4 linked regions of the Homo sapiens genome follow. The protein of the gene in region 3 interacts with the protein of the main gene of each other region in a biochemical or structural test. Each region holds a gene or a part of one and is shown on either strand. Other genes may lie near its edges.

Region 1 (7,039 bases), on a different chromosome or scaffold from region 3:
GCCAAGGTGCTCCCGTGGGAGCGCCTGTAATCCCAGCTCTCAGGAGGCTGAGGTAGGAGAATCTCTTGAACCTGGGAGGCGGAGGTTGCAGTGAGCCGAGATCACACAACTGCACTCCAGCCTGGCGACACAGCGAGACTCCGTCTCAAAACAAAAAAAAGTATACAGAGGATGCGCGTAGCTTATATACAAATACTACAGCTTTTTATATCAGGAACTTGAGAATCAGAGGATTCTGGTATCTGAGGGGGATCCTGGAACCTATTCCCCACAGGTACCGAAGGTGGAGGGCTGTATTTTCTTTTTCTTTTTGAGACAGGGTCTCAATCTGCCACCCAGGCTGGACTGTAGTGGCACTAACACAGCTCACTGCAGCCTCAACCTCTGGGGCGCAAGTGAGCCTCCCACTTCAGCCTCTCGAGTAGCTGGACTACAGGCGCAAGCCACCACACCTGGCTAATTTTTGTATTTTTTGTAGACAGGGTTTGCCATCTCTAGGCTGGTCTCCAACTCCTGGGCTCAAGTGATTCACCTGCCTCAGCCTCCCAATGTGCAGGAATTACAGGCATGAGCCACTGTGCCTGGCCCAGGAGGGCTGTATTTTCATCACCCTGAAAACACCTGTAGCCTTTAGTGGGGTAAGGTCCTATCTCCTCGCTCCATCCCCTGCCCCCCAACTAATCTACATTCTGTCTCTATGGATTTGTCTTTTCTGGACATTTCACAGAAATAGAATCAAACAGAATCATACAACGTGATTTTTTGTGACTGGCTTCTTTCACTTAACACATTTTTGTGTTTTGATTTTTGAGTATTTGGATTTTTAATAAAAGAAAAAGAAAAACAGAATGAATAACTCAATCTAGCCAGCAACAGGAATGAAAGTACTTTGCAAACTGTAAAGAGCTTTTGACACATCAATGCTCGTCACTGGGATGAGCCACACAGGTTTCCAGGGGACAGTGAGGATCCTTAGAGTCCCCTGGCCATGCTCCATTTCCCCATGAGCAGAGAGGCAGGAGAGTGCAGCGGTTGAAGTGTGAGTTTCAGAGCCAACCTACTAGAGCCCAAATCCTGACTCGGACATCCCCTGGCCAGGGGTCGTCGGACAAGGCACTTCACCCCTCTGAGCCCCAGGTACCTCATGTGTAAACCGATGACACTATCTGGCTCATTGGGATGTTCTGACAGACAAACATGCTTACAAGAGTGCCTGGCACACAGTCAATGCTCCATGATGTTCGGCTTGGTGGGAAGTGCAGCCCCTAGGCTAGAGATGAGCCGGTGTCCACCCAGTGGGAGGAGGGGAAGAGGGAATAAGCCATGCTATGAGGAAAGGAGAGCCTCCGGGAGGGCAGGCTGCAAGGGCTCCTGGCTCCCAAACAGGACTGTACTGGACAGACAAGAGAGGTCACGGCACAAGCAGAGGCCCAACAGCAGCAGGTGCAGCGGGAACCATGGGGTGGCAGAAAAAGACAGTGGAAGAGGTGGGCAGGGAAGAGATCTGAAGGGTCTTGAATGGCCGGCTAAGATCCTGGCCTTCAGCCTGAGGCACCAAGGGCCATGTTCAGGTGTGTGATCACAGGATCTCTCAACCGTGGCACTACTGACACTGGAGCTGGAGAATTCCTGGTTGTGGGGCTGCCCTGGGCACTGCACAGTCTAACAGCACCCATGACTTCTACCCACTAGATGCCAGGGCACCCCTTTCCCCCTGAATTGTAACAACCAAAAGGTCTCCAGATCTTGACATATGTCTCCTGGGGGACAAAAATCACCCTGTTGAGGCTACCTGGTGGATACGAAAGGGCTGGAGGAGGCTAGAGGGGTAGTGGAAGGCCTGGGAAGGCCACTACAGAGACCAGGCAAGAGCTGACGGTGGCCCTGCCTGGGCAGGGTGCAGAAACTGATTGACACTTTGGAGGCAGGGCCTGCAGCACTTGGTGATTCGGCAGATGTGTGCAGGGAGGAGAGGTGCTGGGGAGGTAGTGGTAGACAGGGCCCTCTTCCCCTCGAGCCCTTACTCCACTCTTCGAGTACTACTGTTTGTATTTCTTTTTTCTTTTTTTTTTGAGACAGCTTCACTTTGTCGCCTGGGCTGGAGTGCAGTGGCATGATCTCGGCTCACTGCAACTTCTGCCTCCCGGGTTCAAGCGATTCTCATGCCTCAGCCTCCCGAGTAACTGGGATTACAAGCAGACACCACCACGCCTGGCTAATTTTTGTATTATTAGTAGAGATGGGGTTTCACCATGTTGGCCGGGCTGGTCTCAAACTCCTGACCTCAAATGATCTGCCCGCCTTGGTCTCCCAAGTGCTGGGATTACAGGCGTGAGCCACTGTGCCTGGCCTACTGTTTGCATTTCTGTTTGACATGTGGAAAAACAGACACCAAAGGTCAAATGATCATATGCTACAAACTTCCCAGGGACAGGGACCCAAGCTGCTAGGCAAAGCCTCTGACCCCCGCAAGTGCTGGAAACCTGCCAGAGCTGCCTCCCCCTGCAGCAGGTCCTGCCACCAATGAGTTCCTTGGTGGCCTCTAAATTCTATCAGGAAGCCGCCAGGCTTTTCTCTGAGCTCCCTTAATTCTTACAACCGCTAAGCTGAGGTTCAGAAACGTTAGGTAACTGGCCTAAGGTCTGACAGAACTGGATGGGGCACAGCCAGAATTTGAAACTTAGTCCCCAAAGTCCCTGTGTTTTTTCTCCACTCAAACTCCAGGTGAGGCTTCCTGGCAGAGGCTGTGTCTGGGAGCCGGCTGAGCATAGATGCAGGGGTGCCCCACATGCGAAGGCCTAGAAGCTAGAACTGCCCGATTTCAGGAACAGAAGATGCCCCATGAGTCAGACACAGTGGAGGGAATGCCAGTTCCCAAAACAAACTTGGACACAGAAAAGGGCTTGGACTTGGCTGGCCCTAGAGGGGCTGGGAACTTGGCAAGTTCCAGGTGGCCACGGGCGTGGCCAGCCTCACACGGGGGCCTACTTGACACCTACACAGACACATGGACACAATCGGGGACATGGGTGGACTGGAGGACAGGGGATGAAGCCCACCGTCCCGGCAGCAGCAGCGGCGGCAACCTCAGTTCCCACCCATCAGAGGCCTGGAGTATTTCCCACACTAACTCTCACCCCTGGAACCACCTGTCAGCGAACAACACTGTTCGCCACCCCTTTCAGAGCTGAGGACCAGAGACTCTAAGAGGTCTAGAGAGTTCCCCAGGATGCAAGTCTAGCAAATGGGCCCAGATTTGGCCACCTCTGGACCCTGCATGGGCAACAGCAGTGCCTTAACAAAGCAGGCCCCACTCTCTTGGCTGACCCCTTATGATGCAGAGGGAGAAGGGGCAGAAGCCACATCCATAGTGTGCTGGCCCTCGGGTGATCCTGGAAAGCAGGGCTTGGAGGACGCATCCAGCCCCACCGGCAGAGGCCATCTGGAGTCAGGCCCTGGCAGAGCACTGGGGATAAGAATGTGGCCAGAGTGTTGAATAAATGGAGCCAGCAAGGCTGGCCGGGGACGCCCTACAATCACCACTGTCCCCAAACCAACAAGACAGGGGCCCAGGAGGGTGCTGGCAGGATGGTGAGTCAGGGCAGGGTCCCCTGAGGCCCTTGCACCAGTGAAGATGGGAGAGTCAGGAGTCTGACTCGCCTCCCCAGACTCAGACCCAGAGGACCCAGACCCTTCGAAATCAACTCCGAACTAGAAACTAAGACCAATGGTGGGGGCGCAGCGCACAGCACTACTGCTGGGCCCAGCACACGTGGGTATTTTACACGCCACGACCTCATTACTTTGCACGACCCCATTTTGCAGATGGGGAAGCCAAGGATGGACAAGGTCATCACCTGCTCAAGCGCATACAGCTCACAAAAGGAAGAACCAGCACCCAAACCTAGGTCGAATTTACTCTAGAGCCAGTACAAAGAGGAGTAAATCTGTACTTAGTTTTTAAAATGAATGAGATGACTATGCAGATAAACAGGAAGTCCTGTCCCCAGGGAGGTCCCACCACACAAGATTCTGGATTTTCTGAGTGATCTTGGGCTGTCCCCGCTCCAGCCATGGGCCTGTCTCCTGTCTGCAAAAAGAGCGACGGGACCTGGGATGGGCGCTGTCTAGGAACAAGTCTGTGCCAAGAGCTGTCTCCATGCCCTTTGACCTCCAGCCAGTGGCTCCAGACTTCAGTGCTCAGCCCAACAGCTTCAATAATACGAGGGTCCTTTACACCCACTCCAATTTCACAAACAGTAAGGAGCTGGGTACACTCATTTCAGATGAGAAGACTGAGGCTCAGAATGATATGGTGACTTACTCCAGGTCACACAGCAAATGAGGAACACGCTGGGGATCTGAACCTGGACTGGCCCCCACATCTCAGCCCTTTTCTTTCCTTCTTTTTTTTTTTTTTTTGATGGAGTCTTGCTTTGTCGCCCAGGCTGGAGTGCAATGACACGATCTCAGCTCACTGCAACCTCCACCTCCCAGATTCAAGCCATTCTTCCGCCTCAGCCTCCAGAGTACCTGGGATACAGGCATGTGCCACCACACCCAGCTAATTTTTGTATCTTTAGTAGAGACAGCGTTTCACCATGTTGGCCAGGCTGGTCTCGAACTCCTGACCTCAAGTGATCTGCCCGCCTCGGCCTCCCAAAGTGCTGGGATTACAGGTGTGAGCCATATCTCCTGGCCTCCTTTTTTTTGAGACATGGTCTCACTCTGACACCCACGCTGGAGTGTGATCTCAGCTCACTGTAGCCTCAACCTCCATGGCTCAGGTGATTCTCCCACCTCAGCCTCCTGAGTAGCTGAGATTACAGGCGCGTGCCGCCATGCCCAGCTACTTTTTATATTTTTCTTGTAGAGATGGGGTCTCACCATGTTGCCCAAGTTGGTTTCGAACTCCTGGACTCCAGCAATCTGTCTGTCTTGGCTTCCCAAAGTGCTGGCGTTACAGGTGTGAGCCACCGCACCTGGCCATCCCGGCATTTTTCTATTCTGCTGTGAGGCTACTGTGCATGTCTGTGCATGTCACAATCCCCATTTTCTCATTGGTTTGCTTGACTAGCCTTCAGTGAACACCCACTGCGCTGGGCACTAGCAGATATTACCAAATGCCTGCCTCCCCGGGAGTAGCTTGGGGTCGCAGAGAAAAACCTTTAAACCAGCTGCACCACACACTCTCCCTCCCTCTGAGCTCCAGGGTGTCCATAGGGGAGGCTCATCTACTAAGCACTCAGCAATGAACTGCACATCTGGCTGGCACTTTAGAGTTTACAAAATACTTTCCCATCTGTCATTTCATCTCTGCCTTGGAACAGTTCTTGGTCAGTCAGGCAGCATTATCACAAACTACAGATGGGGACACTGAGGCACAGAGGAGCTGCATGACCTTCCCACAGCCACACAAAGCCACGTCTAGAACGCAGAGCTAGACGTCTAACGTCTCCCTCGGCATGTTCTGTCTTCCACGCTCTCACTCATGTGGAGGGCTGTGGGCATACAGGCTGCTTCTGCCAGTTTTCTAGAGCGGTCTTGGGAGGCCAACTTGACCATCTGTGCCTCAGTTTCCTGATGTGCCAAACAAATAATCTGGTACTATCTCTAGGGGCTGCAGAAAGTACCCTGCAAGGAAGTGGTCAGGGAACTCCCAGTCTCCGTCCCCGTCTCCATTGAGGCTTCCTTAGCACATTTCATACTCCAAGGAACCCTAACCATGGGGTAACAGAAACCCCGAAGTTCTGAGCTGATGGACACGACACACAGACTTGGTGTTCTCTGCACTGGACAGAGCTGATTTTCATTTTCCAAGGAGGGTAACCAAGGCACAGAGGTGTGTCTAGCCTGCTTCTGAGGGTGCAGGGACAGGAATGAGGATAACTCGTAGAAGGGCTGGCCACCTCACTCCAGCAACTTCAAGCCTCCACCCGCTAATCCACAAGCACCAACACTAAATACCTTCCCTTTGGACCAATAAGCACAAAGGAAGGGCCAAGACTCATGACCGTGCCCCTCAGAAGTGGCACTGAAAGGCGCAAGCCTCATTTCTCCCAGGCCAAGGGGAGGACTGAGAGGTCAGTGATTTGTTTAAAATGCAACATCACAGCATACTCATACTTTCAACAGGAAGCACATCCGGAGAGAAAAAGAGAGAGAGAGAACTCCCTAATGAGGAGACCGCATCCCCCCACCCCACCCCCGAGGTTACAGGGGAGCCTGCGTCATCCCAAAGCCTGCCTGGGCTGGGTTCCAGGAGGCCAGGACATAGAGAGGGGGGCCTGGCTAGGGGTCCAGCAGCAACCCAAGTCCCTTCTATCTACCAATATCCTTCTCCCAGGAAGCAGGGGAGAGGATGTGAACCCCGCCTGGGTTTTCCCACACCCAGCTGGTGACCCAGCTGACCCGGGACACTGAGGCACAAAAGAACCGCATGACTCCTGCAGAAACTGGAGCTAAAAATACCCTCCAGTGCCCAGCCTGGCCTGCGAGAGGAGCCCCCTGGCCTGCCTCCCGGCAACCTGCTGCTTCCTTCCCCATCTGGGATGGCCCTGGGGCAAATCATGCCCCTGGAGCCACATTCTGACTTCAGATCCCCAAATCCTGGGGTCTTTCCTCCTCTTGGTCCCATGGGCTGGCCCCAGGGGCTCCAGCTGGAGCTAGGAACACTTACCCAGGTAGATATCTCCGAAGGACCCGCTCCCGATCTTCCGTCCCAGGCGGTACTTGTTCCCCACACGTAGCTCCATGGCTCACTCTTGCTGCAGAGGAAGCAGGAACATGAGGGTCAGCGACGTGGGGAGCCGGGAAAGGGGTCCAGTCCACCAAGGCCAGGCAGAGCCACCAGGAACTCGAAAACCTGCATTCTCGAAGACCACATTCTGCAGGTGTCAGGTGGCCCACAGCCTGCACTCCACACACCTGGGGAACAGCTAAGGCAGGCTGAGGACAGGTTTCAGTGTGGCCAGAGAGGAAGCAGCCAAGCAAGCATGTCTTTGGGGGATGCTCATTCAGGGGCCCCTCAAAAGAAGCT
Region 2 (7,039 bases), on a different chromosome or scaffold from region 3:
CAGAGTCTGAAATAGACTTATACATAGATGGCCGATTGATTTTTGAGAATGGTGCAAAAGCAACTCGAGGGGAAAGGATAGTTTTGCCAAGAAACTATATGAGAGTAGCTAGATATTAGTATTGAAAAAAATATATCTAAATCCTTACTCCACACCAAAAGCAAAAAAAAAAATTACTTCAAAATGAGTAATAGGTTTAAATGTAGGAACCATAACTATAAAATTTCTAGAAGAAAAAACAGGATAAAATCTTTGTGATCTTGTGGGTAGAGATTTCCTAGATTGGACATCAAAAAGTATAGAAAATAAGAGGAAAAAACCCCTGATAAATTGGACTTCATCAAAATGTAAAATTTCTTTTAAACATACTCTTAAGAAAACAAAAAAATAGCAAGCTGTTTTCTTGAAGGGAAAAGGTATTGGCAAAACATATCTGAAAATAACTTGTGTCCAGAATATACAAGGAACTATTACAACTTTTTAGTAAGACAATCCAATTTTTTAAACAGGCAAACACATGAAATAAAGTTCAGTGTTAGTCACCAGTGAAATACAAATTAAGTCAGTTAATCCATACTTTGAAGTTTGCTTTTCTGAAAGGATTTATTACTGCTTATACTTCATAGCCACTAGCATGGCTAAAATTTAAAAGACCATACAGAGGTTGGACAGGTGCAACTGAAACTCCCATACATTGCTGGTAGAAATGTGAAATGACATAACCCCTTTGGAAAATCATATAGAAGTTTTTTATAAAGTTAAACCTATACTTACAACATCATGTAGCAATCCCCCTTCTAGATATTAACCCAACATAAATGAAAATGTATGTCAACATAGACTAGTACAAGAAGAATGTTCATAACAGCTTTATTCACAATAGCCCCAAACTGGAACCTATTCAAATGTCTGTCAACAGATGAATAAACACATTGTAATATACTACTCAGCATTAAAAAGTAATGAGCTATGGTTGCACGTAACAACATGGATAAATCCTGAAAACATAGTAAGTGAAAGAATTTGGACACGAATCTATACTGTATGATTCCATTCATGTGCACCTGTCTAATCTGTAGTGATGAAGGCAGATAAGTGGTTGCCTGAGGCTGATGGTATTGTGGGGGTTGGGGGAGAGTAATAGGCAAGAGACATTTTGGAGCATTAGAAATGCCTCTTGATTGTGGTGGTAGTTATGCAGGTGTGTTTGTTGTTAAAACTTACCAAACTATACCCTCAGGACTACGAGAATCTAATGAAGTAAAATTTTCGTTATAAAAGTTATAACTAGTTTTTTTCATATTCTCATCCCCACTTTCATTAGTGGATGTAGATGGACTTTAAGGCCACTACTTATTTTGGAAAATTTGCTATTTTTAATAGCATATACTTACATTTTATAATAAAAAGTACAAGAAATAAAAAAACCTCTCCGTTATATCACATTTTTAGCATGCGAAATGGGAAGTTGAAATCTCTTCTCTAGTCTTCCAATCTTGTAGCCTTAATGACTGTCAATTTTGATGTATACTTCTGCAACTTGCAGTCTGGTGGAAGCATATATATTGATTAAATAAAAACACAAACATAGTATCTTTAAATCATAACAAGTGTTATTGAAAACAAGTGTATTAGTCTGTTTTCATGCTGCTGCTGCTGATAAAGTTATACCTGAGACTGGGCAATTTACAAAAGAAAGAGGTTTAATGGACTTACAGTTCCACATGGCTGGGGAGGCCTCACAGTCACGGCAGAAGGCAAGGAGGAGCAAGTCACATCTCATGTGGATGGTGGCAGGCAAAGAGAGCTTGTGCAGGGAAACTCCTTATAAAACCATCAGGTCTCATAAGACTTATTCACTATCAGGAGAAAAGCATGGGAAAGACCTGCCCCCATGATTCAATTACCTCCCACTGAGTCCCTCTCACAACGCATGAGAATTCAAGATGAGATTTGGGTGTGAACACAACCAAACCATATCAACAAGTATAGAATGTTTACACAGTAAAAATCAAAACCTTTTCTGACCCTTCATCCTAGTTCAGAGCCATACTTTGAAAAGTTTGCTTTTCTGAAAGCATTAAGTACTGCCTAGATAGTATGATTGTTCATGTGGATAAAACATCTTGCACATAAACAGACATCCTCTTATTAAAGTATTTTCTCATTGGTAGTTAGCATTTTGGTATTATTTTGAAACATCAAGAAATCTTAAGTATTTAACTTCAGTGACAGAAAAATTGAAATATCATTCAGTCAGCAAGTATTTATAAGCATCTCCCTGAGCCTTAGTCTGTAATCTTTATTCACTTATGTGCTAAATGACATTTTGTTACAACAACAACTTGAAAATGACAGTTTGTTCAAGTAGTATTTTTTGTGATAGTGAAGGGGTTATTAATGTTGGTATGTGTCAAACACAAGTTTTTCTTAAAATATATTACACACAATACTCCATAATCGTGTTTAATTTAATGGAGAGTATTTATCATGGGAGTTTTGTGCTCATATAACTTTAGGAAATGCAGGGTTGAAAAAGTTAAACATTTTAAATTCTAGATTTCTCAGAAGTTTTAATACGTTACCTTCTGAATCTTTAAGACAGAGCTGTAGTATACAGTGACTCTGACCATGGAACTCTTTTCCCCGTGGCCTGTACTTCCATGAATAGACATCTAAGCAGATAAATAAATCTCTAACAGCATCTAAAAATTATAATGGAATATTTTAAAGATGCTCAATAATCTTAATGTAAAAACATTATTTATATAGATATAATTTTATCACTTATAGTTACTAGATCTGTATTTTGTATTTATATGTTGAACTTTTGGAAATTAATTTATACATAATGAAAGAACAAACTCTCCATTCTTCCATTCTTAACTGTTAGAGAAAAGTGAAATTTATATTTCTTTTGTATTTCAGAACAAAGTAGAAGAGACGATTTAGAAGCTTTAGGTCATATGTTCATGTATTTTCTGAGAGGCAGTCTTCCTTGGCAAGGCTTAAAGGTAATTGTTTTTGTGTTTCTTTATTGAATTTCATAAAATATTAAGATATTAAGGTCCTGTCTTCCAACTAAACAGTTTTCATATTTTAAAATTTTATTTTGTAAGTAGGCATCAGGGCTCCCTGTGTTGCCCAGGCTGGTCTCAAACTCCTGGGCTCAAGCATTCCTTCTGCCTTGGCCTTCCAAAGCTCTGTGATTACAGGCTACCGTGTGCAGTCCCAGCTAAATAATTTTTAAATTACCACATTCTCAAGATTTTTTTTTTCTGTTTTAGGCTGACACATTAAAGGAGAGGTATCAGAAAATTGGAGATACAAAACGGGCTACACCAATAGAAGTGTTATGTGAAAATTTTCCAGGTAATGAATAATGTGAGGTTGATACATTATATACAGAAAACTAGAAATGCTAATTTTTATTGCTTAAGTTTATACATATTTTTTTCTATGCTTAAAAAAAAAAGAGCTAAAAATATGATTTAAAGGTTGTCAGCATTTGATGCCGAACCCACAGGGACACTTTGTGTATTTGCTTTGCAAATGGTATTAATAGAAGAAAATCCTGTCTGTTAATAGTGTTGATCATTACCAGCTGAAGTAATATTTTCTTTAGTGATATACTTTTAATGAGTTAAAATTTTTGCTAAGAAATGCCAGTTACAAAGTTTTGGTATTCAGTGTTAGTCATTTGGGTCTCAATGTCAAGTTCAAAGGAGGTATGTGAAGTATGATTTGGTTTAGTTTTCAAATTAAACTTAAATTAAGTAAGGCCAGTAAAACCTTACTGACCTCACTAGTTTGGGGCTAATTTTATATTGGGGAGCTGTATGCATTTATGAAAATAATTTTGCTTTCAAGTAGATTTATGGCAACTCAAATTAAGCCAAAAAAAATTTACTTAAGATTTCTACATCAATTAAGGAATAAGAATAACTTGTTAGTATATTAAGATAATGACTGTGATTTATTTGTGCAGCCACATTAAGTGAAAAGAGAGCTAAATTTGAAGATAAAATACGGAATTCCTATCTCACTTTAGTATTCCGTAGTTCTCCTGTATAATGCTGGCGTTATTAATGTAATAATAATATTATCAACATAACAAAAGTAGCTCTTTCTCAAGCTTGTTTATATTATTCATTGACAGCAAACTTTAATTATATATTTTCCTTTCTTGCTATAATATCTAGAAGTAGATTTTTTAAAATGTCGGTTAATAGTACTAGCAGTTTAGTGTAGGCAGATAGGGTAGTTGTCATTAAGGAAGCCTATATAAAGGTGGGAAAAATGGGGTTGCCAAATCAAATTAGCCAGGTATTTAGCTAGAAAGTGGAATAGTGGGAGAGTCACCACCTAAAGAAGGTCACTGCACACCACTTTTGTTGCCTCATTGTGCTGGGTGTGATCTTTTTCCTGTTGGCTGGGGCTGCCTGTGAATGCTAGGTGTAACTTACCATCTCTTACTGTAGTGATTTTCTGTGCCCTGATGGTGAAATGCCCTGCTTTACTAATTGCTCACCATTTTGCCCATTGTTTTATATTTATATATTTGTTTGTCTGTTTGTTTGTTTTTGCATGTATTAGATACATGTATCTAATACATTTTGGAATTATAATAGCATGCAGAGATTTGTATATCGCCAAATAATTGTTAAATATATGACCAGAAATTAAGAGAAGACTTACACTGTCCTCTTGTGTTATGTTTTTGAGATTTGTTTTAGCTTTCCTTTGTTAGCTTAATTGGTTAGAATACTGCTCAAAGCCAAGGTTAGGAATTTGAATTCTCTATTAGTTAGTTGGTTTATGTCACTGATTCTAAAGGAAATCCAGCAAGCCAATACAGATGCTTTCATATAAATCAGTTCTCACCGGTATTTTAAATAAAATTTTAAATTTATAAACTGAATATGATGCTTTGTGATTAATCATGCATTATTAAACTGCTTATTCAACTTCTCATACTACCAAATATTAAAAATAATCTTATAAAAATGAAAATTTTAGCTTTTCCTAATGAAATGAAGCAAAAATAGTGGTTGTTAAACTAAACCTCCCATTTTTCTTGTGTCTCTATTCCCTTCCTTCTTTTCCTCTTTTTTATTTTGTTGTAATTAAACTCAGAAAAATTTAAATTGCAATGTAATTTTGTTACTTTTCAAGTGTTTTTATATAATACAATGTGCTTTTAGATACTTAATTTTATTACTGAGTATTAAAGAAAAGTATAGTCCAAATAATTTTTATATTATTTCTAGAAGAAATGGCAACATATCTTCGTTATGTAAGAAGGCTAGATTTTTTTGAAAAACCAGACTATGACTACTTAAGAAAGCTTTTTACTGACTTGTTTGATCGAAAAGGATATATGTTTGATTATGAATATGACTGGATTGGTAAACAGTTGGTGAGTATTCTATATAATAATATATTACTTACAGTATCTGTTGCCTTTTTAATAGTACAATATCTTCAATTGAAAAGAGTTGAGAACAAATAGTTGTTTTAAAGGATTCATTTTATTGTTTTTTAAGGGACATTTCTGCAGGTAGTGCCGTACTAGTGTTCTTTGAGTTTTTCAGAAGCCCTACATCTGGATTCTTTGCCTTTTAGCATGAAGAGTTACTTTTAACTTTTCATCCTGATTTAGTTCTTAATGTCAAATATACTCTTTTTTGTGTAATATTCTCATGATTAATTTAATACTTCAATCCCTTGATGAAAATTAAAATTTGTATGAGTCTCTTCAAGTCAAAATATTGGAAATAAGTAATTTTATTAGTTTTTTTATTCTTTTAATTTTCTTAAAAGTTTATTCTATGTATACATTTGCTTTGGAAATGAGAGGCATAAACATATACATTTTTATCATGTTGATATGAAAATGTAGCCTAAAAGTAATGGCAGCATTAAGTGTTCTGTAGATGTAAAAATAAGTACTTTATAAAGAATTTGAATATTTTAAAAACACTTTAAAAAGTAGGTATATTCTTTTTGCTTTACCTTCTTAGCTTTAACAACATATTTTGATAATGATGCCTTTACTTAAAGCCTTAGTTTATTTAACAGTCTTTTGTTTTTTTCCTTAATTCTTTTAAGCAGCTAAATGATTTTAAATAAGAATTTTAAAATGGAATGTATTGATACCAATTGTTATTGTATTGTAGCCTACTCCAGTGGGTGCAGTTCAGCAAGATCCTGCTCTGTCATCAAACAGAGAAGCACATCAACACAGAGATAAGATGCAACAATCCAAAAACCAGGTTTGCTGCCCTTTAGATATGAAATACCTTCCTTTCATGATTGAAACATACACTTTTTTCTTCAATAGATAAAACAGACTGAAGGATTGAAAATACATATTTTTAATAGATAATCTATTTTCTCTTAATTTCACTGTTTATTAGTTTAATAATAGCATTAAAATGTTTAATCATAAATCCTTAATTAATGGTACAAATTAGTGTAAACTTTTAGGAATATGTGATATTCTGTTAGAATGGAAGTATTTGGATACCCTATTAGAATGAATTGTAATAACACTTGGACTTTCTAACTGTAGTTTAGTTCAATAAATTATTTATTGAATTTCTGCTATTGTAAAGCTACTGTTCTACACATTATAGAAATTCAGAAGTAAAGAAGACTGTATAACCTTTAAGAATGATTTTGTCACCAGTGTCTAAAAGCAGTGTTGTAGCTAAGAGTTCACTCAATTCTTTAGAATCAGGCATACATGGATATGGCTTGACCCTGGGCAAATAAGTTAATCTGTCAAAGCCTCAGTTTCCTCATCTATAAAATGGAAATAATGCATGTTAATTTAGAGCATACAGTAAGCTTTGAATCAAAACTCTTGTGTCTGCTGTTACTGTTATTATTATTACAATAAATACAGAAATAGCTATATTTAAAAAGAGAATAAGCTATATTACATGAAACACTAATAAAGTAGCATGGAGATCATATGTGGGGCTCTATGAAGATTTTATGGAAAAGGTAGCTTTTGACATGAACCTAAAGAATG
Region 3 (2,677 bases):
AGCCATTCAGCACACTTTGTTCTGATTCTCACACTCAGGCCCTTCTCCCCCCATAGTGTGTGAGCACCTTGATGCCAGAGACCATCTTCCTCTCATCTTTGCAGCCTCAGTACCAAGGGCCATTATAAGCACAGCGCAGATTTCATGGAGTGGCTGAATGATTTGTTTGCTGTGTGATCACCTGTACTGAGTCAATATCGGTCACCTTTGGTCATGAGCATGCCCCTTGACCCAGATTCCTGCAGGAGCCTGCATATAGGGGCCCTGCTTGCTGGGACTGGGGATGGGGGTGGGGTGGGGAGTTCAAGGGAAGGCAAGGTCTAGGATATAAATCCCAAGGGCGTGGGCTCAGCAGGGCCCGTTCTCATGCTTTCTGGCCCGGGAGGAGTGATTCTCCATCTGGCAGGCCCAGCTGCAGTGCTGGGACAGGGACATGAGCAGAGGCCACAGGAGGAGAGAGGGAGGTTGTGGGGGGAGCTCGGGGAAGCCCATGGTAACCCGGGGGGAGGAAAAACAGCCACACAGTGTTATTGTTACAGAACCATTAAATACAACTTATACACAAGCAAGCTGGGCGGCGTCCGGGGGGCAGGGAGAGTGCAAGAGGGTCAGGGGTGAGCAGTCCGGGCCCGGTCCTGGAGGGGGCTGAGGCTGCCGTCGTGGGAGGGGCTTGGCTGGCGGAGGCCGGGCTGCCTGTGGAGGCCTTGAAGCTTTGCCAGCAGCTCCTGGATGAAGTCCTGAGACAGGGTGGGGGAGCTGAGAACATGGGAACAGTGCGGGGGCACCCTCTGCCCCTGTCCAGCCCAGTCCCTGACCTGGGCGCCTCCTCCTGTTCTCTGATTGTGGGGTGGGGGGAGTTAGGGGCGGAGGCTATAGACATAGAGAGAAAAGTGAGCCGGGAGAAAGACAGAGATGGGGAAAGGGCGATGGGAGGGATGGAGAGAAAGAGCTAGGAAGAGAGATAGAGATCCAAGGAGACAGATACGGAGTGGGGGAGGGGGAGAAACAGACACAGAAACAGAGAGACATGTAGAGATAGAGACAGAGAGAGACATAAGGACAGAGAAAGAAACAGAGACATGTGGAGACAGGTCCCCAGAGATAGATCCAGGGCGAACAGAAATGCAATGACGTTTGTCCCTAGAGCTAGTTGGAGAAACATGAATAGTTTTCCCTTTTAAAGCAGGGAAGGAAGTGGGAGGGGTTGGGCCGCTCAGCTTCAGGGCCTGGGAGGATGGAGGGCCCCCAGAGGTGGGGAAGGGAGCCCGGGGTGGCGGAGGCAGTGACAGGGGAGGACAGAGGGAGACTGAGCCCGAAGGCTGGTGGCCAAAGGACAGGCACAGGAGAGGCAAAAACAGGGCAGATGGGGGAGGACAGAATGGAGCCCCCTCAGCAGATGGGGGAGAGAGGGAGAGAGACAAGTAGGAGGACAAAAGACACCCCTGGAGACCAGAAAGAGCTGCGGAGGGCAGGTTGGGGCCGGGGGTGGTGGGGCCGGGTGGTGTTCCCCAGAGACCCTTCTGCCAGCTTCTTCCCCCTCCCCCATCAGAGTACTTGGGGCCAGAACAGGGAGAGAATGAGGGAGAGAAAACTCACCTCGACAGGTTTCCCACATGACTTCAGGAGTCCCTAAAACCCCCAACCAAGAACAAAACAAAACAGTAAATGACTAACACCTACTCCCCTCCAGCCCCTTCCCTTTCCCAAAAGGCCCCAGCAGCAAGACAAATGGAAGTCAGACTCCAGGGTGGACTGCCCACCAAGCTTCAAGAGAGGAACAGAGCCCAAGGGGCATGTGGATCGACTCAGGGCAGGGGTGAGTTACTAGATCCAGAGAGGGCGAGAGGGTCACACAGCACTTCCCTCCTCTAAAAAGGTATAAGCCATAAGCAAAGACATGGCTGCCAAACTGCCTGGGTTCGATGCCCAGCTCTGCTCCTTCTGAGCTGTGTGACACTGGGCAAGGGATTCAACCTCTCTGGGCCTCATTTTCCTCATGGGGAAAATGGAGCTCACACTAGCGCCTGCTTCGGAGGGTTTTGTGAGGGTTAAGTGAGTGAATACATGTAAAGCCATCACACCAGTGCCCGGCATCTAGTGAGCACTCAGTAAACACGTGAACTATTGCTATTATTTTTAGGGAGGTGCAAAGTGGGAGGCTGGGGGACACGTCCCCCCACCTACCTGGATTTTCCGGCTTCTCTCCTCTTCACTCTCTAACTCCAACAATTCATCAATGTTGATCTCATCGGGCATGTCTGCCTCCTAGGGCCAGGGAGGGAGGGGTGCTTAGGATCCCCTTCCCTCCCTCCCTCGCCTTTGTCCAGGGCTCTGCAGGAGCCCCACCGGCCCCAGGGCCCAGCTGGCGGGTTCTGGAGCATTAATGTGGCAGTCCGGGACAGCACTGCCAAGACGGGACATCTGGGTGTTGGGGGGGAGGGGTGACAGATGGGCTGAGAGAGCCCCGGGGCCCTGTACCAGCCCGATGCCTGGGCCCATGGGCCCCGGGAGCCTCGGGGCTGGCACGGGTCTCTCGCCTTGGCTCTAGTTCCCACAGAGGAAAACAGGCCTAGTGGAGTCCTGGAATGTCAGATTCTGGGATTCGGGAGAGGAGCTGGCTTCTGCCCTTTCAAGGAAAAGTCTTAGCACTAGGTGCAGGGGAGGAGAGGCTGGCAGC
Region 4 (7,039 bases), on a different chromosome or scaffold from region 3:
ATAGAGCACAGAAGAACTGTATGTGAGATTTAATATAGCTTAATATATGTTTACATCTTTTAAAATAAACCAAAATGAAATAAACAATACAAAGAATCCCCAACACACCCCCCCATCCCCCATAAAGGAACACACCTATCTCTCGGTAACTTGAACCAATAGACTTACAGAGTATTGCACCTGGACATTATTATAATTATTCTTTCATAGACTAAAGTTTTATAATATGCCTGAACATGCAGCAGTTGATACCTCTATATGCAACGAATTAATTCCACAGGCCTTGCAGCAAACACTATATACAAAAATCTCAAATGTACAAAAGGCAAAAGCTTCATTAGTGCCACTTTGCCACTCACAAGTATATATATTTAGGGGCAGCTGGGAAATCCACGTGCAATAGTTGGAATGGATTCCATTCCCTGCTAAATCAGTTCAGTAAATTAGGTAATCAAATGACCTCTGGGAAACATATACACAAAGCCACAGAGAACCCTTGGAAATGAAAGAATAACACTGTTAGCATATCTACAGGAGGTAATGTCACATCCCTTCAATAGTGTCCACATGAGTTGCCATTGCATGTCACACAGAAACAAAACTGAGTACATCTTGCGACATTGTCAGTTTTCTAACAAGTTGCTCTTCAGTTTCCAGATACCCTTTGTATAACCCATGTTTAGCCTCATTCTGCTTATTCCAAAAGCAGATATTTCGTATATAACTTTACATGTTTAATGTTTAAAAACCACAACACAGTAGTACTACCATTTTGTATAAGTGCGCAAAAATAACACACTGCTGCAGAAAATAAATAGTGTTTATGCTAGGAACTTAGGATGAAACTGGAAAGAGAATCTGGGAGCTGAGCTTTGTTGGAACCCCAGGGTCCTCGCCTTTGTGTCCAGGTAGAACTTGAATGATGAAGAATGCTACTTGTTGCCTTTTCTCTCAATTCATACAGCTCTCATGTGTCACTCGGGCATTGACAGCATCCACCTTGGACGACCGGTTTCTCATTTTTTATTAGCCCTTTAATATCTACCTGTATTCAGACTGGAACTCATCTCTTTTGGCCAATTAGAAAGTGAATTTGAAAATATATTTTTCAAATGTTAACAGAGTTCAAAACCCTGTTTCTTTTTCCACAAAGAGGATTTCTTCCACAAGACACAAACTTACATGACTTTGGCATGCTGAAAAGCTAAAACCAAAGCAGGCAAGAGTTAGCCATTCCAGAGCAAACCAACCCAGCTGGCCAATCCCTGCATCTCTGGTCTCCCTCCCTCAGAGGGCATGCCTCAAGGGCGCCCTCCCTCGTGTGTGCGGAGAAGCACCAGTCTCTTCTCCAGGACAGAAGGGCAGGGATGGCAAGCTGCGGTGCAGGAGGGAAAAGAAGCAAGAGGGATCAGGATCTGTGTCCGATAGCAGAGCCGGAGTCTTCTTGTTTGCTTTCTTTCTTTTTTCTGTTCTTTGCAGTAAAAGAACTGAAGTTGCTTCACTGCCAGGAGCCCCTGAGGAGTGGAACCAGGCTTGCCAATGGTCCAAACACGGCAGTGTATACAGCTAATTGCTGACCCAATGAGTCTGCATTACTGGTGAGACAAGAACCGAGAGCGCCTTCTGGTCACCAGGTGGGAGGGGGAGGAGGTGGCCTGGGGCAAGGGAATGCAATAAATAGACAGTGGACATGGGACTGGGGCTCCGAGGAGGAGAAGTAGTTCAAGACCTGCTGAGTGTCTCCAACACAGGAGTCTTCTCTGCACCCCTTCTTGCAGCATCGGCAAAGTCCAACTGCAGTGGGCTCTCAGGGCATCAGGTCTTCACCAAAGTAGGAGAAACCTTTGAATTCCTCCTGGTTGATCTGCTTTACAATTGCTTCGTCCACAAGGGTGAGTACCGGCTCTTCCCGGGTAAAGTCTTGGTCAAAATTATTGACGTCTCTTTTGGTTTTCTGTGGGAAGAAAAGAGAAAGTGGTGAGTTGAGGCTGCTCTCCCTCCTGAGGGCCCCCCATGGGGAGTGGGCACCGCACTGACCAGCCTGTCACCAAAGCAGGCCTCTAGCTACCAACAGACAGCAGACACGGGGCTGTCCCGATGAGGTAACGATGGATGGCCCCAGGACCCGGAGGTGAGAGACGAGGAGAGGAAGAATGAGTCAAGGTGAGAAGGAAGAAGGGGTGAGAGGGTATGATGGAAAAGCAGGGAAGTGGGATTCCCACAGACGTGTGTGTGTGTGTGTGTGTGTGTGTGTTTGTGTGTGTATGATGCAAAGGTCCCATCTCACACCCTCTTTCAGCAACTGCTGTAACCTACTGGCTCCATTACAACATTCCTCCCTGTGACCCAGGGAACAGATCTGAATCCCCTCTCAGAGGTCCTTCTTCCCCATAACCCGGCCACATCTGCTCCAGGTGACATCCTCTCCACAAGCCTGCCTCGATTTCCACTTACTCTCACCACGAACCCAATTTTGTGCTCCAGTATTTTTTCAATTATTAAACTCAGCACATTGACTTGCAATGACGTTTTTATGCTTTTGTCTAGACCAAGAGCTTCTTAAAGGCAGAGACCTTGTCTTGTTCAACTTTGAGTTCCCAGCAGTTCCCCAGCAATAAGTGTCTACTGAATGAAATAAGTAAACTCACCACTGACTCCCCAGCTCTGAAGGACCCATACCTCTGGGTTGAAGTTCCCAAGGTACAACTGTGTGCCTTATGGTTCTTGGGGGGTGGGGTGGAAGGGAGCAATCAATCAACCCACAAATGAATGCTGGTTTTTGGAGAAAATCAGGAAGTATAAGTAATGCTCTCTGCCTTTAGGGGCTTAGAGTTGAGTTCAAGGGGTCAGTAGTCCTGTGTAGAACACATCGCTTTAGTTAGAAAAATTTCCATGGAGAAGTTGGGATTTGGGCTAAGACTTGAGGAATGGGTGACAACTGTACTGGTAGAAATGGGAGGGAGGCACCTTGGCAGGGAGAAGGATGGAACAAAGGCAGGGAACAGGAAGACAAAAGATGCATACACAGGGCAGCGGGTTCACTAAGCTGCAGGGGCAGAGTGCGGCATGGGGATGGCGGGAGTTAGGGCTGGAGTCCAATGGCAGAGGCCTTCAATAGCAGGTCCCCTCTCCCCCACAGCACAGAGCACAATGCCCAGAAGATTAAAGGCAGGGACTCCAGCAATACTTTTTTCAGACACTGATTAACTGGTATTACCCAGGATTAGTGACTTGGATGATGGAATAAATCTTGTGGAAAGATTCACATTATTATTTGTAGGAGAAATAATATTAATATATGCTATGCTCTGTGGAAACCACTAACCTAAAGAAGTTAATAAGTAGTCCATGAAAAAAGCAGTTTTGACATAAAGCCATGTTTTCTACCCTGCTCTTGGAGATTTGCTATGCACATTGGCAAGTTAGTCTCTGAGAAATTCTAGAGTGAGGAAATCTAGTTTGCTTTGTTTAGGCTAGCCTTCCTCAAACTTGACCTAAAACTTTTTTGTTTTCCTAAATAGTTTATGAACACCTCTCCTGAGAGCAGGGTCTGCAGAATGCAGTTTGGAGAATGTTGGTTTACAGTTTACAAAGAATCTTTGCATTTATTCGCTCATTTGATCCTCAGAACAGGCTGGTAACATCCTGATCCTGCAGATGAGGAAACTGGCTCAGAGAGGTTTGTTGACTTTCCCAGGGTCACTGGACTGGGTAAGAGCAGACCCAGAACTCATGTCTGGGCTTCAGTGTGATGCCTTCCACAGTGGGTAAGGTCTGGAAATCTGGACACGGGAGAAATTGGAAGATATAACAAGAGTCAAGTTCAACCAGGAGACATTTTGGTAACACCACTAGGCAAAATAAAGCCGGAAAGGCCTGCCAGTAGGCAAGCATGGGTGGAGACAGCTGTGAGTCCGGGAAGATAGTGGGTAACGTGGGCCGGGTGAGCTGCGCGGGGGACTGTTTTCAACTCGTCCCAGGTTGAAATCAAAATCACAAACAGCACGGAGGAGGGACAAACTGATTTCTACCATCTTTTAGCACCACCAGTCCTGCCTGGTGTCTTCTCTCTGGGCTTGAGCTGCATAGGTCAGCAGGTCTCAGAGACCTTGGAAGGGGGAAGGGGGGGACACACAGAAAACCCAAGGGATCCCCAGAAACAGAACCTATAGCTGAGGGGTGTCCATGATGCCCCTGAGATGGGAAAGCCGGGTGGTTTGGTCACCTCTGCCAGGAGGGCTGGCCCCCGGCAGGAGGACCATCTGTTCTCCCTCTCCAGTGTGTACAGAACAAGAGGAAAAGGAGGGCCCTGCTTGAGAGGGAAACAACAAAGACCATCCCCACGGTGACGCACACTGACGCGGGAGGGTGGCGCCTGGGCAAAGGGTGTGGCGACACCTCTTCTGAAGATCTCTGTGGAAGGGGGAGGGATTCACTGACTGGGGAGGATTGCAGGCTATGGGCCCTCTGTGCCTGGCGAAGTGAGTCAGTCCAGAGGGAGGAGCGGGCTGGGTAGGCTGTGGCAACAATTAGGGAAGCCCTGGGTATCATCCCAGAAGGCAAGCCAGGAGCATCCACGCCGGGGGAGCTGGAGCCGAAGGGGATAATGGAGTAGTAGGGGTGGCAGTAAGGAGAAAAAGAGAGTCAAGGAATAGGGCAAGAAGAATATTCCATTTGTAACGTCACTAAGGACGAGCCTTGCCCAGGTATGTGGTAGACCGGTATAATCCAGGCAGAGGGCTGGCTGTACAAGGCGTGTAGGCAGGAGATGCCTTCACCATCTCTCCTAACTTGGCACTCACCACACTGAGGAGGCTCCCTCTTTTCAACTAATGTATGATATAGTGACCGGGATTCTCCAGGTTTCAGAATCATCCCCAGCTCCCTCCCAGATGGCTGCTAATGAGGGGAACCTGTGTATGAAGAACTTCAGAAAATCTGTAAGCCCTCTGGCACTGGCTCTCCCCATTTACCTGATTGTGTTTCACCTGTTGGTCATTAGTGTCTGTTAATCATGGAAGCTGGTTTCATTTCTTGAGGTCAACTGAGCATAGTGGTAAAGCTAGATCCTACAGGATGTCTGAATTTCACGACTTGCTGTTGTGAATCAGGGAACCAGGCTCAGTCAATACTGCTAGTGGTGTCATTCCAGAGGACCTTAGCTCCATGGTGGGCTATCTTGGAGAGCCATTTAGCTCAGCTCTGAGATTCTTGAGGTTCCAGAATCATCTGTGGCATTTGAGAGAGTATGCCATTCTTCATGATCGTTACAGACTTGGCTCACCCATCTCCTTATACAACTTGGCCCCTACCCTACTTTACTTGGAGACATTTCAGGTGCATGTGAGTTACCCATTTCTAATTCAAATAACCATCCCCACTATGTGCAATCTCTAACTGTTAACAGTAGAGGCTTGGGAGTTTTCCAAAGCAAACATCTCTGGGAAAACCCATCCCCTATTAATGGTATGTAGGCAGCACAGCATCGTCAAATTTGCAAAGAACTGCAGATTATATTCTTTACTCGCTGATTTTATTCTTTGAAAAGCTGCTACCTCCCGCACAGAGCAGGCACTGGACTCGACTTAAAGATTCTGAGGGGCAGGCTCTCAGAGACACTTGTTTATCCTGATCCTCAGTCATCCCTGCCTCCCCTAATGCCTAAATGTCAGGCTCCTGGCCCCCACTGCAGAGCCTGAGAGATGACAGTGGGACACAGGGAACAACATTCTAACTCGCCAGTCCCTTCCTAATCCGTGAAGCCTTTTCTACAACCTTTGGCCCACACTTAGGGAAGGCTGAATAGAGTAGGAGGAAGATCACCGGCTGAGCTCATTCTGGTGCCATCCTTTCCTGGTTATTGACGCTGTGAAGTTAACCTCTTTAAGCCGTGGTCTTTCCATCTGTCACACGGGGGTGGTAACAGGCACACTATAGGTTTCCTTGAGGACTGAGTGAGATGTGATATTAGGTTCCTTCTGCAGAACCTGGCATACAGAGTGCACTCAATAAATGATAGCTCCCATCATGCCTTCAAATCTTAGCATTCGTGTGCCATGGGCATGCATCATGCACAGCTTGGTTGTTTCCCAACACAGTGCATGGTATCTGCCCATCAGTGAGTTTCCTGAAGTTAGGGGCTGAGTCTTACCTTTCTTTCTGTGCCTCCAAATCCTGAACTAGGACTGAGCCTGGGCCTGCCTGAACATCCTAGTGCTTCCTCCAGCAATTGAGATGCTTCATTGCACATCACGGCTTTTGGGGTAAAGTCCTGAGTTCTTTCGCTCACCTGCTTCTGAGGCCCTTCAGGAGCTTGTCCTTGCCTCATCCCCCAGGTTCATCTCCCTGGCACTGCCCAACCATGGGGCTTCCTCCTGCTTTCTCTTGCCTCCAGCCTTGCATAGCTAGCCCTCTACCTGGAATGCCCTCCCCTATCCCTGCCTTCTGCCCCACATCCATGCAATTTCCCCACCTCCATGTACATGCCCTTTCTTCAGGAACCCTCCTCATCCCTCCAGGGCTGCTTGAGCAAAGCTTCTTGTGGGTGCCCTCACCATCTCTCCTAACTTAGTACTCACCACACTGAGGAGGCCTCTTCTTTTCAACTAATCTATGAGCTCCTTGCAGGCAGAGACTGGGTTGAACTCACCATTCTATCCCCAGCCTAGCACAATGCCTGGCACATACTGCATACTCCATAGATATCTGCTAGAAAAAATTAATAAATGCACCTCTCTTGCTGCTACTTTATCTAGAGCCAGTAACGTGATCTGGGTTCAGGGTCAGGGGCTGCTGTGCTGTCAGGGGGTGTTTTGATTTTGGGAAGTGGAGGCAGGGAGTTGGGGGGGATGGCTGTAGTCTGATTCATGAAGGGCCTAGAGCCAGGCATCCCAGACCATCACTAGGCCCATGGGGTCTGCAAAACAGGTAGGCTTAGGCCCAATTAATGAAATTTCTTCTCCCAGGACTTGGGGCACTAGAGTTTTCTAATTGCTGACACAAGATAGAAACAAACAGGTTCGACCAGGGTTTGGGAAAA

What was found.
Region 1: the proteins of PPP1R14A (region 3) and CSNK1E form a complex in vitro, tested with the Homo sapiens proteins (one study listed by BioGRID).
Region 2: the proteins of PPP1R14A (region 3) and CSNK1G3 form a complex in vitro, tested with the Homo sapiens proteins (one study listed by BioGRID).
Region 4: the proteins of PPP1R14A (region 3) and PRKCE form a complex in vitro, tested with the Homo sapiens proteins (one study listed by BioGRID).

What each region holds. Positions count from the first base shown.
Region 1 is NC_000022.11:38,307,403-38,314,441, forward strand, and holds part of CSNK1E (casein kinase I), read right to left. Parts: intron 6,768-7,039; 5' UTR 6,756-6,767; coding exon 6,680-6,755; intron 1-6,679. Other genes in the region: TPTEP2-CSNK1E (casein kinase I), read right to left, coding at 6,680-6,755.
Region 2 is NC_000005.10:123,585,140-123,592,178, forward strand, and holds part of CSNK1G3 (casein kinase I isoform gamma-3), read left to right. Parts: intron 1-2,928; coding exon 2,929-3,014; intron 3,015-3,287; coding exon 3,288-3,372; intron 3,373-5,270; coding exon 5,271-5,419; intron 5,420-6,179; coding exon 6,180-6,275; intron 6,276-7,039. UniProt on the Homo sapiens protein: Serine/threonine-protein kinase. Casein kinases are operationally defined by their preferential utilization of acidic proteins such as caseins as substrates. It can phosphorylate a large number of proteins. Participates in Wnt signaling.
Region 3 is NC_000019.10:38,250,710-38,253,386, forward strand, and holds the end of PPP1R14A (protein phosphatase 1 regulatory subunit 14A), read right to left. Parts: intron 2,266-2,677; coding exon 2,185-2,265; intron 1,630-2,184; coding exon 1,597-1,629; intron 738-1,596; coding exon 609-737; 3' UTR 528-608; downstream 1-527. UniProt on the Homo sapiens protein: Inhibitor of PPP1CA. Has over 1000-fold higher inhibitory activity when phosphorylated, creating a molecular switch for regulating the phosphorylation status of PPP1CA substrates and smooth muscle contraction.
Region 4 is NC_000002.12:46,179,650-46,186,688, reverse strand, and holds part of PRKCE (protein kinase C epsilon type), read right to left. Parts: intron 1,955-7,039; coding exon 1,808-1,954; 3' UTR 1-1,807.